Homo sapiens: one gene and its partner. The protein of the gene in region 1 interacts with the protein of each later gene in a pairwise test. Each region holds a gene or a part of one and is shown in the gene's direction. Other genes may lie near its edges.

What was found. Proteins that work in one complex are often made in the same cells at the same time.
Region 2: the proteins of TULP3 (region 1) and BACH2 interact in binary tests that used the Homo sapiens proteins (3 or more experiments, as listed by UniProt).

The regions. Positions count from the first base shown.
Region 1 is NC_000012.12:2,928,869-2,935,900, forward strand, and holds part of TULP3 (tubby-related protein 3), read left to right. Parts: intron 1-96; exon of another isoform or gene 97-157; intron 158-1,379; coding exon 1,380-1,477; intron 1,478-2,168; coding exon 2,169-2,372; intron 2,373-4,549; coding exon 4,550-4,662; intron 4,663-5,578; coding exon 5,579-5,693; intron 5,694-7,032. UniProt on the Homo sapiens protein: Negative regulator of the Shh signaling transduction pathway: recruited to primary cilia via association with the IFT complex A (IFT-A) and is required for recruitment of G protein-coupled receptor GPR161 to cilia, a promoter of PKA-dependent basal repression machinery in Shh signaling.
Region 2 is NC_000006.12:89,943,830-89,950,861, reverse strand, and holds part of BACH2 (transcription regulator protein BACH2), read left to right. Parts: coding exon 1-592; intron 593-7,032. UniProt on the Homo sapiens protein: Transcriptional regulator that acts as a repressor or activator. Binds to Maf recognition elements (MARE). Plays an important role in coordinating transcription activation and repression by MAFK.

The DNA.
Region 1 (7,032 bases):
CAGGAGACGGAGGTTGCAGTGAGCTGAGATGGTGCCACTGCACTCCAGCCTGGGCAACAGAGTGAGACTCCATCTCAAAAAATCATAATAATTTACCAGTGCTGCAGCTCTTTTTAGAATTTGTCTAGCAAGTTTTCCTGTTTTTACTGAAGCCTTCCCTTCCCTTCCAAATAACAAAAAGTACACTTTTTTTTTTTTTAAGAGTTCGGGTGGGCCGAGACGGGCGGATCACGAGGTCAGGAGATAGAGACCATCCTGGCTGACACGGTGAAACCCCGTCTCTACTAAAAATACAAAAATTAGCCGGGCATGGTGGCGCGCGCCTGTAGTCCCAGCTACTTGGGAGGCTGAGGCAGGAGAGTGGCGTGAACCCGGGAGGCGGAGCTTGCAGTGAGTCGAGATCGCGCCACTGCGCTCCAGCCTGGGCGACAGAGCGAGACTCCGTCTCAAAAAAAAAAAGAGTTCGGGTGTAATTCTGTCACCCAGGCTGGGGTGCAGTGGCACAAGCATAGCTCACTTTAGCCTCAAAATCCTGGGCTTAAGTGATCCAACCACCTCAGCTAGCTAGGACTACAGACACACAGGTACCATCGTGACCAGCTAATTTTTTTAAAAAAACTTTTTATGGAGACAGGTCTCAAACTGGTGGCCTCAAGCAGTCCTTCTGCCTCAGCCTCCCAAAGTGCTAGGAGTTCAAGCACGAGCCACTGTGCCCTGCCTAAATTTTTTTTGTTTTGTTTTTTTGAGACAGAGTCTCTGTCTCCCAGGCTATAGTACAGTGGCACAGTCTCGGCTCGCTGCAAGCTCCGCCTCCCAGGTTCAAGCGATTCTCCTGCCTCAGCCTCCTGAGTAGCTGGGACTACAGGTGCGTGCCACCACACCCGGCTAATTTTTTGTATTTTAGTAGAGATGGGGTTTCACCATGTTAGCCAGGATGGTCTCAATCTCCTGACTTCGTGATCTGCCCACCTCAGCCTCCCAAAGTGCTGGGATTACAGGCATGAGCCACCGCGCCCAGCCTGCCCTGCCTAAAATTTACAACTTTAATCAATTTTAAGTGTGAGATTCAGTGACATTAAGTGTATTAACAATGTTGTGCAACCATCACTACCATCCATCTCCAGAACTTTTTCATCATCCCAGAGACTTCACACCCATTCAAGATAATTCCTCATTCTCCCCTGCCCCCAGCCCCTAGTAACCTCTATTCTACTTTCTGTCTCTATGAATTTGCCTGTTTTATGTATTTGGACAAAATAGTTGTGTTTACGGTCAGAATAGTTAAGAATGTTTTAAGCAAGAAAATTAAAACTATCTTTGTTTCAAAGACCTTTTTTAAACAGTGTTGGCAGTGCTAACAGTTCTTCCTTTTCTGCTAGATATCTCTGAAAGTGTGAACTTCGATGAGGAGACTGATGGAATATCCCAGTCAGCATGTTTAGAAAGACCCAATTCTGCATCAAGCCAGAATTCAACCGTATGTAGTTCTGAAACTTCTTCCATTAGAGCTAATTTGACTCTTTCTCAAACATATCTTCAGTATTTATTTATTTATTATTATTATGTATTTTTTGAGGTGGAGTCTCGCTCTGTCACCCAGGCTGGAGTGCAGTGGCATGATCTCAGCTCACTGCAAACTCCGCCTCCCGGGTTCACGCCATTCTCCTGCCTCAATCTCCCGAGTAGCTGGGACTACAGGCGCCCGCCATGACACCCGGCTAATTTTTTGTATTTTTAGTAGAGACAGGGTTTCACCATGTTTGCCAGGATGGTCTCGATCTCCTGACCTCGTGATCCGCCCGCCTCAGCCTCCCAAAGTGCTGGGATTACAGGCATGAGCCACCGTGCCCAGCCCTCAAACATATCTTCAGTATTTAAATACCATTACTGAGTGAGGGTTCCTTCAGAAGTGTAAGCTCAAATTTAGTTTATGATCTAATTTTTTCTGTCTCAGGTCAGCTATTGTGAGGCTTTGTCCCATTTTGATACTTACTCTTCATTACTCTCAATATTCATATACTTAATTTAACTTTTCAGTTTTCCTCATTCTGTCAGAAGACTGAAGACACGGGTAAATTACTAAGTTGCTTTGTCCACTAAGTGTTTTTCAAAGAGAATCAGATTTTGAGTCTCGGCCTGTTGTTGCTCATGTATGGCTGTCCTTTCAGGATACAGGCACTTCCGGTTCTGCTACTGCCGCCCAACCAGCTGATAACCTCCTGGGAGACATAGACGACCTGGAGGACTTTGTGTATAGTCCTGCCCCTCAAGGTGTCACAGTAAGATGTCGGATAATCCGGGATAAAAGGGGAATGGATCGGGGTCTCTTCCCCACCTACTATATGTACTTGGAAAAAGAAGAAAATCAGAAGGTATGAGAATTGATTTCTAAGAAAACTCTTGAGAGAGAGAAGAATGTTGTGGGAATAGATTGTTGATGGGCCTTAGGGAACTAACTCTGGTATTAGACCAAGCCAGCTGGAAGTAGATTGTATCTTTCAGTCCCCAGATGCTGTGTTCTCATTTTCTGCAAAGAGCTCATGGTCTAATAGGCAGCAAGCTCTACCCTCCCACAAATAAGAGCTTTATCCACGAAGTGGGAAAATGGACGGGTAGTTGTTAATGTAATTATTTTCACCTGTCTCCCATGATTGAGTTTTTGAATGTTACTGTTTGTTCTTTTGGTTTTTCTTTTTATTACGGAAGAACATGACATTGTGGAAGGAGAGTGAGTTTTAGGGAATAGGAGGAATTAGAAATACAGAAGGACCTACAAGTTAAATGTCTTGTTTCTCACCCTAGAAGTTCTAATTTATTTTATAAGTTTGAGCCAGCGATGAACTTTATTTTATTAATTTTGTATTAATACCAGGTCTTAACAGATGATTTTAAGAGCCTAGAAATAAGATAATGATACTAGGTGTTAATTCTTCTAACCACCATTTATTGAGTGTTTACGACAGACCAAGCATATGCATATATATCTATATATATTATCACCTGTAATCCTTGCAGCCACCTTGTTAGGTAGGATTTCTTACCTCTGCTTTAAAGATGAGGTAACTGGGGCTTAGGGAGTGACTTACCTACCCCACGTTGCACTAAGTGGTGGCAGAGCCAAATTCAAACCTATTTTGCATAATTCTAAAGTCTTCCTGCTTAGCCACTGCCACTCTCCTGCTTCCCTATTATGGTCCTAGTCTAGGAGAGTTTAGGAAGGATGCCTATATAGGATGGTATTCATGCCATTGAGGTCACAGTGGTTTAACACAACAGCAGTATAGAAAAAAGAGTATTTCCTCCCTGGAGAGGCTTCCCTTTTGTCCCTTCTTGCCCTTTGCCTAATCAGAGTCTTTCCTGATGTGCTTCACCAGATGTGGTTGACATTCCTCTGTCTGTGTCCCCATGGCATGAAGAAAGCTATCACAGGCCAGGTGCGGTGGCTCACACGTATGATCCCAGCACTTCGGGAGGCTGAGGCAGGTGGATCCCTTGAGGACATGAGCTCGAGACCAGCTTGGCTAACATGGGGAGACCCTGCCTCTAGCAAAAAATTAAAAAATTAGCCAGGAGTGGTGGCATGCACCTGTAGTTCCAGCTACTCGGGAGGCTGAGGCAGGAAAATCACTTGAACCTGGGAGGCAGAGGTTGCAGTGAGCTGTGATTGCACCACTGCACTCTAGCCTGGGTGACAGAGTGAGACCCTATCTCAAAAAAAAAAAAAAAAAAAAGCCATCACAGTAAAGAATGGGAAGGTTTTCAGGATCCTGTCTCTCCTAAGGTTGGAAAGACTCTTAATCATGGCATTGGATGAACATTGATTGTTATTTATTTATTGGATTTTGCAAGGTTGCCCAGGCTGGCCTTGAACTCCTGGACTCCAGTGATCCCTCTACCTCAGCCTCCCAAGCAGCTGGGATTATAGGCTCATGCCACCTGGCCCAGCTTTGGAGATTTTTTTTTTAACTGGAAGTTTTAGGGATGAAGTTGTAACTAATTATATGGAGAATCAAGCTAGTGAATTTAGAAAAACTGTATAGGAAGAAAACCCTGATAGTGAATTATTTTATTTTTATTTTTTATTTTTTTTTTGAGACAGAGTCTCATTCTGTCACCCAGGCTGGAGTGCAATGGCATGATCTCGGCTCACTGCAAGCTCCGCCTCCTGGGTTCATGCCATTCTCCTGCCTCAGCCTCCTGAGTAGCTGGGACTGCAGGCGTCTGCAACCACGCCCAGCTAATTTTTTGTATTTTTAGTAGAGACAGGGTTTACGGTGTTAGCCAGGATGGTCTCGATCTCCTGACCTTGTGATCTGCCCACCTCGGCCTCCCAAAGTGCTGGGATTACAGGCGTGAGCCACCACACCCTGCCTGATAGTGAATTCTGATAAGAGAGTTAGAGAAAGGGATAAAGGCCCAAAGATTAACAGCTTGACATATGCTGAGGACTTGCTAAGCACTGGCTGAATGAATATGTAGGACAACCATGACCAGAGGTGGGGCAGGTTCTCTGGACTTCATTTTTGACTGACACTTTTTCTTTTCCCAGATATTTCTTCTTGCAGCTAGAAAGCGGAAAAAGAGCAAAACAGCCAACTACCTTATCTCCATTGATCCAGTTGATTTATCTCGTGAAGGAGAAAGTTATGTCGGCAAGCTTAGGTGAAAGCAACCTTAGATCACTGTCCTATTCTTTCTGATAGTCTTATTCCTATAGTTGCAGAACAGTCCTTATCTTGGTTACAACTAGCATGTATTGATGTTGTAATCTTAAAAAAAAAGAAAAAGGAAAAAAAAAAAAGCTGGGCGCAGTGGCTCACACCTGTAATCCCAGCACTTTGAGAGGCCAAGGCGGGCGGATCACTTGAAGTCAGGAGTTGGAGTCCAGCCTGGCCAACATGGCAGAACTCCCTCTCTACTAAAAATACAAAAATCAGCCAGGTGTGGTAGAACAGCCTGTAATTCCAGCTACCCGGGAGGCTGAAGCACGAGAATTGCTTGAATCCAGGAGGCAGAGGTTGCCGTGAGCCAAGATAGTGCCACTGCACCCCAGCCTGGGTAACAGAATGAGAGTCTGTCTCAAAAAAATAAAAAAATAAGGCTGGTGTGGTGGCTCAGGCCTATAATCCCAGCATTTGGGGAGGCTGAGGTGGAGGATCACTTGAGGCCAGGAGTTTGAGACCAGCCTGGGCAACACACTGAGACATTATCTCTTCAAAAAACTTTAAAATTAGCCAGGCGTGGCAGTTCTCACCTGTAGCCCCAGCTACCCAGGAGGCTAAGGTGGGAGGATGACTTGAGCCTGGGAGTTTGAGGCTGCAGTGAGCTATGATCCCTGCCACTGCACTCCAGCCTGGGCGACAGAGCGAGACCCTGTCTCGAATTAGTAAGTAAATAAAAAGTTAAAAGAAAATCTCAGTTCCTTCCTTGCTTTAATGAGATATTTTTGAAAAAGTGATGATGAACATTGAGACATTTGGAAAACAGGCAAATAGGCTTCCATTTTCCTTCTCTTAGATTGTGTTTGTATAAGAAAAAAAATACAGATCATCATGGTGACTTTTTCTCCTGACTCCAGATCCAACCTCATGGGGACCAAGTTTACAGTTTATGACCGTGGCATCTGCCCCATGAAGGGCCGGGGTTTGGTAGGAGCGGCCCACACCCGGCAGGAGCTGGCTGCCATCTCCTATGTGAGTGCTGCTTTCCCAGGGCCGCTGCCTGCCCTCCTGGTGTCCTGCTGGCACTTTTCACCTAGTGTCGCTGAAGAACCTCCCCTCCCAAGCTTGTTTCTATTTCTGTGATTTCTGTTGCTGTACCATTTTCTCCATGTATTTGAGTTTTAGTTATTTGAATTGCCAAGTTCAATTATTTTTCACTCTCAGAACATTTCTTCCCTTATTTCCTTTTCTTTTTTCCTGCTGCCACTTAATTCAGACCTTTACTTCTTACCCAGTGGCCAAAGGTTACAATAAATTAAAGCTGATCTTTTTTTGCTTTTAATCTTTTCCTATCTAGTTCATTCTCTTTTTTCTCTTTTTAATCTCTTTTTCTTATTTTTTTTCCTCTTTTTGGCATTTATAGTCCACTTCTTTTTAAATTGTATCTTATTATTATTTGTTTTATTGTCCTTTTTCATTTCATTTCACACCCGGGAAAGGCTTGAGAACTATCTAGCTCGTTCTCTGCTGCCACCAAATGAATCTTCCTACAACGAGGCTCCAGTTGATCCTCCTGTTCTGCTTCAAATCTTTTAGTGACTACCCATTGTGTGAGATCTAACATGGTAGCATTTGCTTTCAGACTTCTCTATTGGCATGCCCCTCCTTCCCATCATTCTAGCCAAGCAGCCCTCCTGTCATTCCTTTGTCCAACCACACTCATCTTTCCTCCTTGGAGAGGCTTCCCTTTTCCTCTTTCTGGCCTTTTGCCTTATCAAAGTCTTTTCTGATGTACTCCACTAGATGTGGTTGACATTCCTTCATCTGCGTCCTTGTAGCATTTGTAACCCACATGTATTTGTTATTACTTGTTCAACATGAACCGTTTCCACCAGTTTGTAAACTTGTGAATTCTTACTCATGGCTATATCCATACTAGCACATGGCTTGGCACACAGTAGATATTCAAAGAGTTGTTGAGTAAGAGAAAGCAAGAAGGAATTGACCCATCTCAGCTGGTTTTTTTATTCCAAAGTCTCAACTTTCTTAAGTTGAAATTAATCCCATGAGATCTTATCTACATGCCTGAGAACCATTTGACTTCACACTTTAATGTAAGGTGTCTTTCCTCTATAGCTTTCATATATAATCTGCTTGGCTTGGCTGGGCTTGGTGGCTCACACCTGTAATCCCAGCACTTTGGGAGGCTGAGGTGGGCAGATCACTTGAGCCCAGGAGAGACCAGCCTAGGCAACATGGTGAAACCCCATCTCTACTAAAAATACAAAAATTAGCCGGGCATGGTGGCAGTCGCTGGAGTCCCAGCTACTGGGGGCACTGAGGCAAGAGGATCACCTGAGTCTTAGGAGGG
Region 2 (7,032 bases), on another chromosome or scaffold:
GTTGGAGGCTCTCTGTAAACAGGAGGGAGAGCTGGACCGGAGGAGCGTGATCTTCTCCTCCAGCGCTTGTGACCAAGTGAGCACCTCGGTGCATTCTTATTCTGGGGTGAGCAGTTTGGACAAAGACCTCTCTGAGCCGGTGCCAAAGGGTCTGTGGGTGGGAGCCGGCCAGTCCCTCCCCAGCTCGCAGGCCTACTCCCACGGTGGGCTGATGGCCGACCACTTGCCAGGAAGGATGCGGCCCAACACCAGCTGCCCGGTACCAATCAAAGTCTGCCCTCGCTCACCCCCCTTGGAGACCAGGACCAGGACTTCCAGCTCCTGCTCTTCCTATTCCTACGCGGAGGACGGGAGCGGGGGCTCACCCTGCAGCCTCCCTCTCTGTGAGTTCTCCTCCTCGCCCTGTTCCCAGGGAGCCAGATTCCTTGCCACAGAACATCAGGAACCAGGCCTGATGGGAGATGGAATGTACAACCAAGTGCGGCCCCAAATTAAATGTGAGCAGTCTTATGGAACCAACTCCAGTGACGAATCCGGATCGTTCTCGGAAGCAGACAGTGAGTCGTGTCCTGTGCAGGACAGGGGCCAGGAGGTAGGGAACCCACATAAATTCAAGCATGTGACCCACTCTCTAGGCCCTTTATCTGGACTACTCCCTGCCCCCCACCACTCCCACATTGTTCTTACGTGCTAAGATTAAAGATGACAGTAGAGAGACTGCCTTCCCCATCCACAGAGGCAGGATGCTGAAGGTGATTCCACATTAACCACTTCTGTCCTAGAAAAGCACTTGATATTTGATCTGGATCTCAATACTCGACAAGCAGAGGCAAGCTGCTGAGTAAAAATATACTGAAGTCTAATGCATGAAGTACACTGAGGCACTCCAGACCCCCCTCTTTCTCCTCCCTCTCTCCCCCTCCTACACCTGCTTTGAAAGGATGCCATGTTCATCACCCTCATCCTTGCCCTTCACCCGTTCAGCGTAAAGGAAGATATAGAATCTCTTTCCAGATTGATTGATTGAAACCAAATAGATCAACACTCTCCCAGCACCTTTTAGATTTTCCTTGTCAACAGAAGACCCCAGGGCCATCCCATGTCCATCACAGTGAAGGTGATGGAAGCCTCACCGTTTATCCCGGTCCTGGGGTCATCACAGAAGCACCCTAGTCAGCCACACATAATGTATAATGGATCATTTCCCAAGCTCCCTCAAATGCTAGGAAGACATTTTGAGAAGTAGTGGGGTAGAGTAGCAGTTTCATCCACCCTGAAAGCAATGTACTTGCTAGGAAAAATGTCCAGAGGCTCCATGTGTGTCTTACCATTGCTGGAAGAGGGGAACAGGGGCAACAGCAGCCACATCGTGAGCAAGACTCACAAGACTAAGGAGAGGAAAGAAGAGGCCCCTGCAGAGGACCCACCTCCCCAATAACATGAACATTCCCTAGAAAGACCTGAGAGAGTCTGTGTCGTGACCTGGCGTTCACTGCACTGTCTTGCTGATTGACAAGGTACCAGCTTGAGACTGCTACCTGTGTCTCAGACCCCCCTCAGGAGCGGGATTGAACAAACCCAGTGACAAGTCCCTTCTCAGAGCTGTGTATCCCAAAAACACAGGAAGAAATGAAACATGGTCCTCCTGAGGCCGGCAACCTTGGTACCCATCTGTGCTCTCTGGATGTTACCAGCCTCTGTAAGGCAGAGATGTTAACCCAGCCAGAAAGCAGAAATGCCATACGGGATGAGGTGGCTTTTCACAGAGCCACGTGCAGTTTATTCAGCCTCTGCAAGATTGGCGAGAAGCACATGAGGTTTTAGTTTGGGCGTGTTTTGAAAATAGATGCCAAAGGCCCCTGTGCCAACTGCAAAAATGCCCTGTGGTCACTTTCTTTGCTTGCTAGCCTGGTTTCTGCCCCTCTCTTAACTGCCTAGCAGACATGGAGAAAGAGAAACACTGCAAGGATTTAATTTAAAATAAATTAGAAAGGAAATATGAATGGGAGCTATTCCCATGCGAATATACCACCTCCCCTTAGGTTTGGGGTGGTGGGTTGTGCCCAGTGCCCCAAGCCAGGCTCACATCTGTGTCCCTGACATTGGGAAGATTGAGCTTTCCCGAAAATAGTGAAAGGCTGTGTTTTCTCTCTCCTCACTCATTCTTTCCCTCTGACCTCTTTTGTGAGGTTTTCCTTTTGTTCTGAAACCGTGAATGAGCGTGCCTGATGTGGAAGGCAAGTCACTGCGTCCACCTCATCCGCATCATGGCTTCCTACCAAGGACTGGTGGAGGGAGAAGAGCACAAAGGCCTGCAGTCTTTGTTTTTTGTCTCTCCTTTAAGAGGAGCCTGGGGCCGGGCATGGTGGCTCAGGCCTGTAATCCTAGCATTTTGGGAGGCCGAGGTGGGTGGATCACTTGAGCTCAGGATTTCAAGACCAGCCTGGGCAACATGGTGAAACCCCATCTCTACCAAAAATATAAAAAAATAGCCAGGCGTGGTGGCTCGTGCCAGTAGTCCCAGCTACCTGTGGGACTGAGGTGGGAGGATCACTTGAGCCCAGGAGAAGGAGGTTGCAGTGAGCTGAGATGGTGGCACTGCACTCCAGCCTCGGTGACAAAGTGAGACCCTGTCTCAAAAAAAAATAAAAGGCTGGCCATTAAGCTCAAGGGAGGGTGGTGTTTTTATGACATTTGCATATGTTCAAAGAACTGTCAGTTTCAGATACATCTTCTTTTGTGTCCCCCCACCCTCGCCGCCAATATCCCAAAAGAGAGCTTAAAGTCTTGGGGCCACAGCAAGAACACATTTTTTGTGTGTATGTTGGGACCATGTCAGTTGTTTACTTTAGAACTAAAAATATTAACTCAATTAAAAGGAGGACTCATTCAACCTGTAAAATAGTCATGAACAGGACTAGCCTTCCCCCCTTGAGAAATACCGCTACTTTTAAAAATACTCTTATTTTTACCTTTAAAAAAGGAATCCATGGCTGGGCGCGGTGGCTCACACCTGTAATGCCAGCACTTTGGGAGGCCGAGGCGGGCGAATCACAAGGTCGGGAGATCGAGACCATCCTGGCTAACACGGTGAAACCCCGTCTCTACTAAAAAATACAAAAAAAAAAATTAGCTGGGCGTCGTGGTGGGCGCCTGTAGTCCCAGCTACTCAGGAGGCTGAGGCAGGAGAATGGCGTGAGCCCGGGAGGCGGAGCTTGCAGTGAGCCGAGATCGCGCCGCTGCACTCCTGCCTGGGTGACAGAGCGAGACTCTGTCTCAAAAAAAAAAAAAGAAAGAAAAATCCATCTTCTGCATTCCTGAACAGTGAAAGAAGAGACATTTACCAAAGCTCTATGCCATTTTGGAAAACATAGCCCCTCTCAGTGGTACAGTTTGGACAGGACAGTTACAGTAAAGTTAAGGTTTTTCCCAATTTGACATCTTAGTTTTCCTAGAGTAGAGGAGGTTAGGTTTCCAAGAACTGTCTCAGGGACTTGCCATGACTGCTGCTCGAGGAGTTGATAACCTGCTTTAGGGAGTTACTTTGACCCTGGTTGAAGTATTATCCCCAGTAATAGTGCTCAAGGCAGATCCTTCTCCACAAGTCAAAACTTGTTTTCCTGAACTGATCCAGAAGAAGCCAGCATCTATTGGGCTAATTCTGCCCTGCCCTGCTTTCATATGGGATCCAGGTGCCTTCTCTTTCAAGTGAACCCCACGGAGACACCAGAGTCAGAAATCAAGACAGGAGTTTCCACCCCTTGCCAGACGCCAGTGTAATACTTCGCGTGTGTTTTCCCAATCTGTCTTCCTCCACCCCGTAGGGAGCCAAAACGTTAGACCAAAAGTGAAGTGTTAACATACCTTGTATTCTGTAAGATGTTGTAGTTATACCGTGTTAAGCAGCCCTTCCATCTCACAGTCGTTGGCTTCTCCCATCCTTTTTAACTGTTCCCTGGCTTCGAGAAAGATCAAATTAGCGCAGTATTATCCTTTATCAATAATCAGCTTTTTAAAATGACATTCTTTTTTAAATTCTAGAACACAGCATACCCAGCCCCAAACATACCAAATTTAACAGGCTTTCTCTTTGCCTACAACAATATACAAATATATATTCACCTCTCTATGGGTTTGGGTTTTATTTTAATGGCATTATGTTGTAGAGTTAGCAGCTTCCTTTTTTCACGTAGCTGTCTACCATGCACGTGGCTGTAGGTCGATCACACAGGGCCAAGACATGTTTCTCCAATATCTCTCGTTCTCGTAAATCGTAGTTCATTCAGCTGTCACTTATCACCAGACATTTCAGTTGTTTTCAGTTTTTCCCTCTGATAAACATTGCTGCAATAAACATTTTGTGACCCTACTGTTAGTAGTGGTGCATTTATTTTTGTGGGTTAGTTTCAAAGATGGGCTAAAGGTTGTGCCCATTTATTAAATACTACCTAATGACCTACCCAAAATGTTGTAGCAATTCACATATTCATCAGCAACTTAGAGTGTCCAATTTCCCCTATTCTTGCCCATACTAGTTGTCACCAGTCTTTTTAATTTTTGCCAATTTGATGGGCAAAAAAATGGTGACTACTAATGAGGCTGACATCTTGTTTTATGTGTATTGAACATTTATATTTCCTTTCCTGTGAATTGCTGGTTTACCTCTTTGCCTATTTTTCTTTTGTATTGTTTAACTTTAAATCAACATGTAGGAATCTTAATCCCTAATATTAGGAATATTAACCCTTTCTCATAAATGTTGCTTAGATATTCCCTTAGTCTGCTTCTTTATTTATTGTACCTTTTCCCATATAAAAAAATATTAGTTTTATGTAGTCAAGGTATAAGTCTTTTTCTTTATGACTTCTGGATTTGCTATATTCCTTAAGAAGTCAGGTTGGGAATTTTTCTCTTCCAGTAAAAAAAAATGAACAAGTCACATAAGTGAAAATCACAAAGCAGTATGCACAAGGTCCTAGTTTGTTTCCTAAATATACACACCATATAAATAAAATCAGCATAGAGAATAAGAAAAAACTGGGAGCACCGTTGGAGAGGAGTGTAGGGAAAGTTTCATTTCTATGTATGTCTGTAATGTTTGAATTTTATGTATGTCTATCTTGCACAGGTTTATTTTTTAAATTAAGACATAATTCCCATATCATAAAATCCACCCTACTAAGATGAACAATTCAGTGGTTGTTGATATATCCACAATGTTGTACAACCATCACCACTATGTAATTCTAAAACATTTTCACCACCCTAAAAGGAAATGCTGTACCTATTAGCAGTTACTCCTCATTGCCCACTCCCCTCAGCCCCAGGCAACCAGTAATCTACCTTCTATCTCTGTAGATGTACTTGTTTGGGGCATTTGTATAAATAGAATCTTGCAAGATGTGGCCTTCTGTGTCTAGCTCCTTTCACTTTAGCATAATGCTTTGAAGGTTTACCCTTGCCATTGATGTACTCACCAGGTATATTGTCATGTATTAGTACTTTGTTGCTTTTAATTCCTGAGTAATATTCCATAATGTTGATCCATTTTGTTGACTAATACCACATTTTGTTGTTCATTGGTTGAGGGCCATGTGGGTTGTTTCCACTTTGGGGCTATTATAAATAATGCTGCTGTGAGCATTTGAGTACAAGTTGTTTTTAAGACATGTTTTCAGTTATTTCCATAATATTCCTAGGAGTGGAACTGCTAAATCATATAACTTTGTATTTAACCTTTTGAGGAGCTACTAGACTGTTTCCAAAGTGGCTATACCATTTCAAATTCCCACCAGCAGTGTATCAAGGATCCAGTTTCTCTGCATCCTCGCCAACACTTGTTATTGCCCATCTTTTTTGTTAGTGCCCTCTAGTGGGTGTGAGTAGTTATGGTTTATCTCATTATGGTTTATAGGTTTGTTTTTAGATGTTGGAAATTATAGAAAATTACAGTCATTTTCCAAAGTAGTAAGCCTCTTAGTAAGACAGCTTTGTAACTGGACCATTTCTACTTAATTGTAGATTTTAGTAAAGAAGCACCACAGAGAGTTTCTTTGCACAGTCAAAAGTATGGATTTTTGGACTTGCTTTATTAACATGTTTTACACTGAGAGAGATAAAAGTGTATGAGAGTAAGAGAGTGTGTTGGGGGCAGGCAGGGGGCGGGAGAGAGAGAGAGAGAAGGGAAGAGAGAGATAAAGTCCAGAGAAAACATGGAAATGGTACAGAATAGAAGAGCCATCTGACTCTAACTCTTCCCACCCCAATGCTGACTTTGAGACACATGTTGTATGTAAAATTTTCACAATCATTTTTGTGGTTTGGTGAATCAGGCAAGTTTTTAGAAGTGTCTGTAATTGGTCTGCTTAATAAAAAGAAACCTTGCTGGGCAGCATAGAAATCAGCCATATTTCTAATTAAAACAGTGTTTTTATGTTGTCTAGAACATTGTAAGTGTCTGGAATTCCAAAGCACATGTCTGTAAGACGAAACCATGTGACAGAGATAGATAGGGCTAATAAACAGAAATAATAATACCTTGTATCTATCAGGCAGTTGAAACTTTCCCAGGCACTTTCTCCACCTGTCATCCAGTTGTATTCTTCATAGCAACCCTGTAAGCTAAGTAGGGCAGGCGTTATCGCCCTGTGACTCCTAGATCCTCCAAGAACTTTGGGACAGACAGAATGAAGACTTGCCTGAGATCACACAACTAATTAATTGACGTATCACAACTGAATCCCAGGTGTCCCATATTTGTGCTAGAAACTGGACCATGAGAAGAGGGCGTGGAAGGACAATTGCGCGAGAAACATTTCTTCACCTGGGAGGGGAGATTTTGTCATTGCCATCTGCCCAGCACTGAGCTGGCTGTCCTGGTTCCAGCAGCACTGGAATCATCTCCAATGGGCATATTGCTTCCTCCCTCGACAGCTCCCTGGGATCTGAGGGTCTCCTCAGAGTACAGGCGTTAAAGACTTCGGAGAGCTGACCACACCATCAGTGTCTCAGGGTATCATGCTAATGTGACCC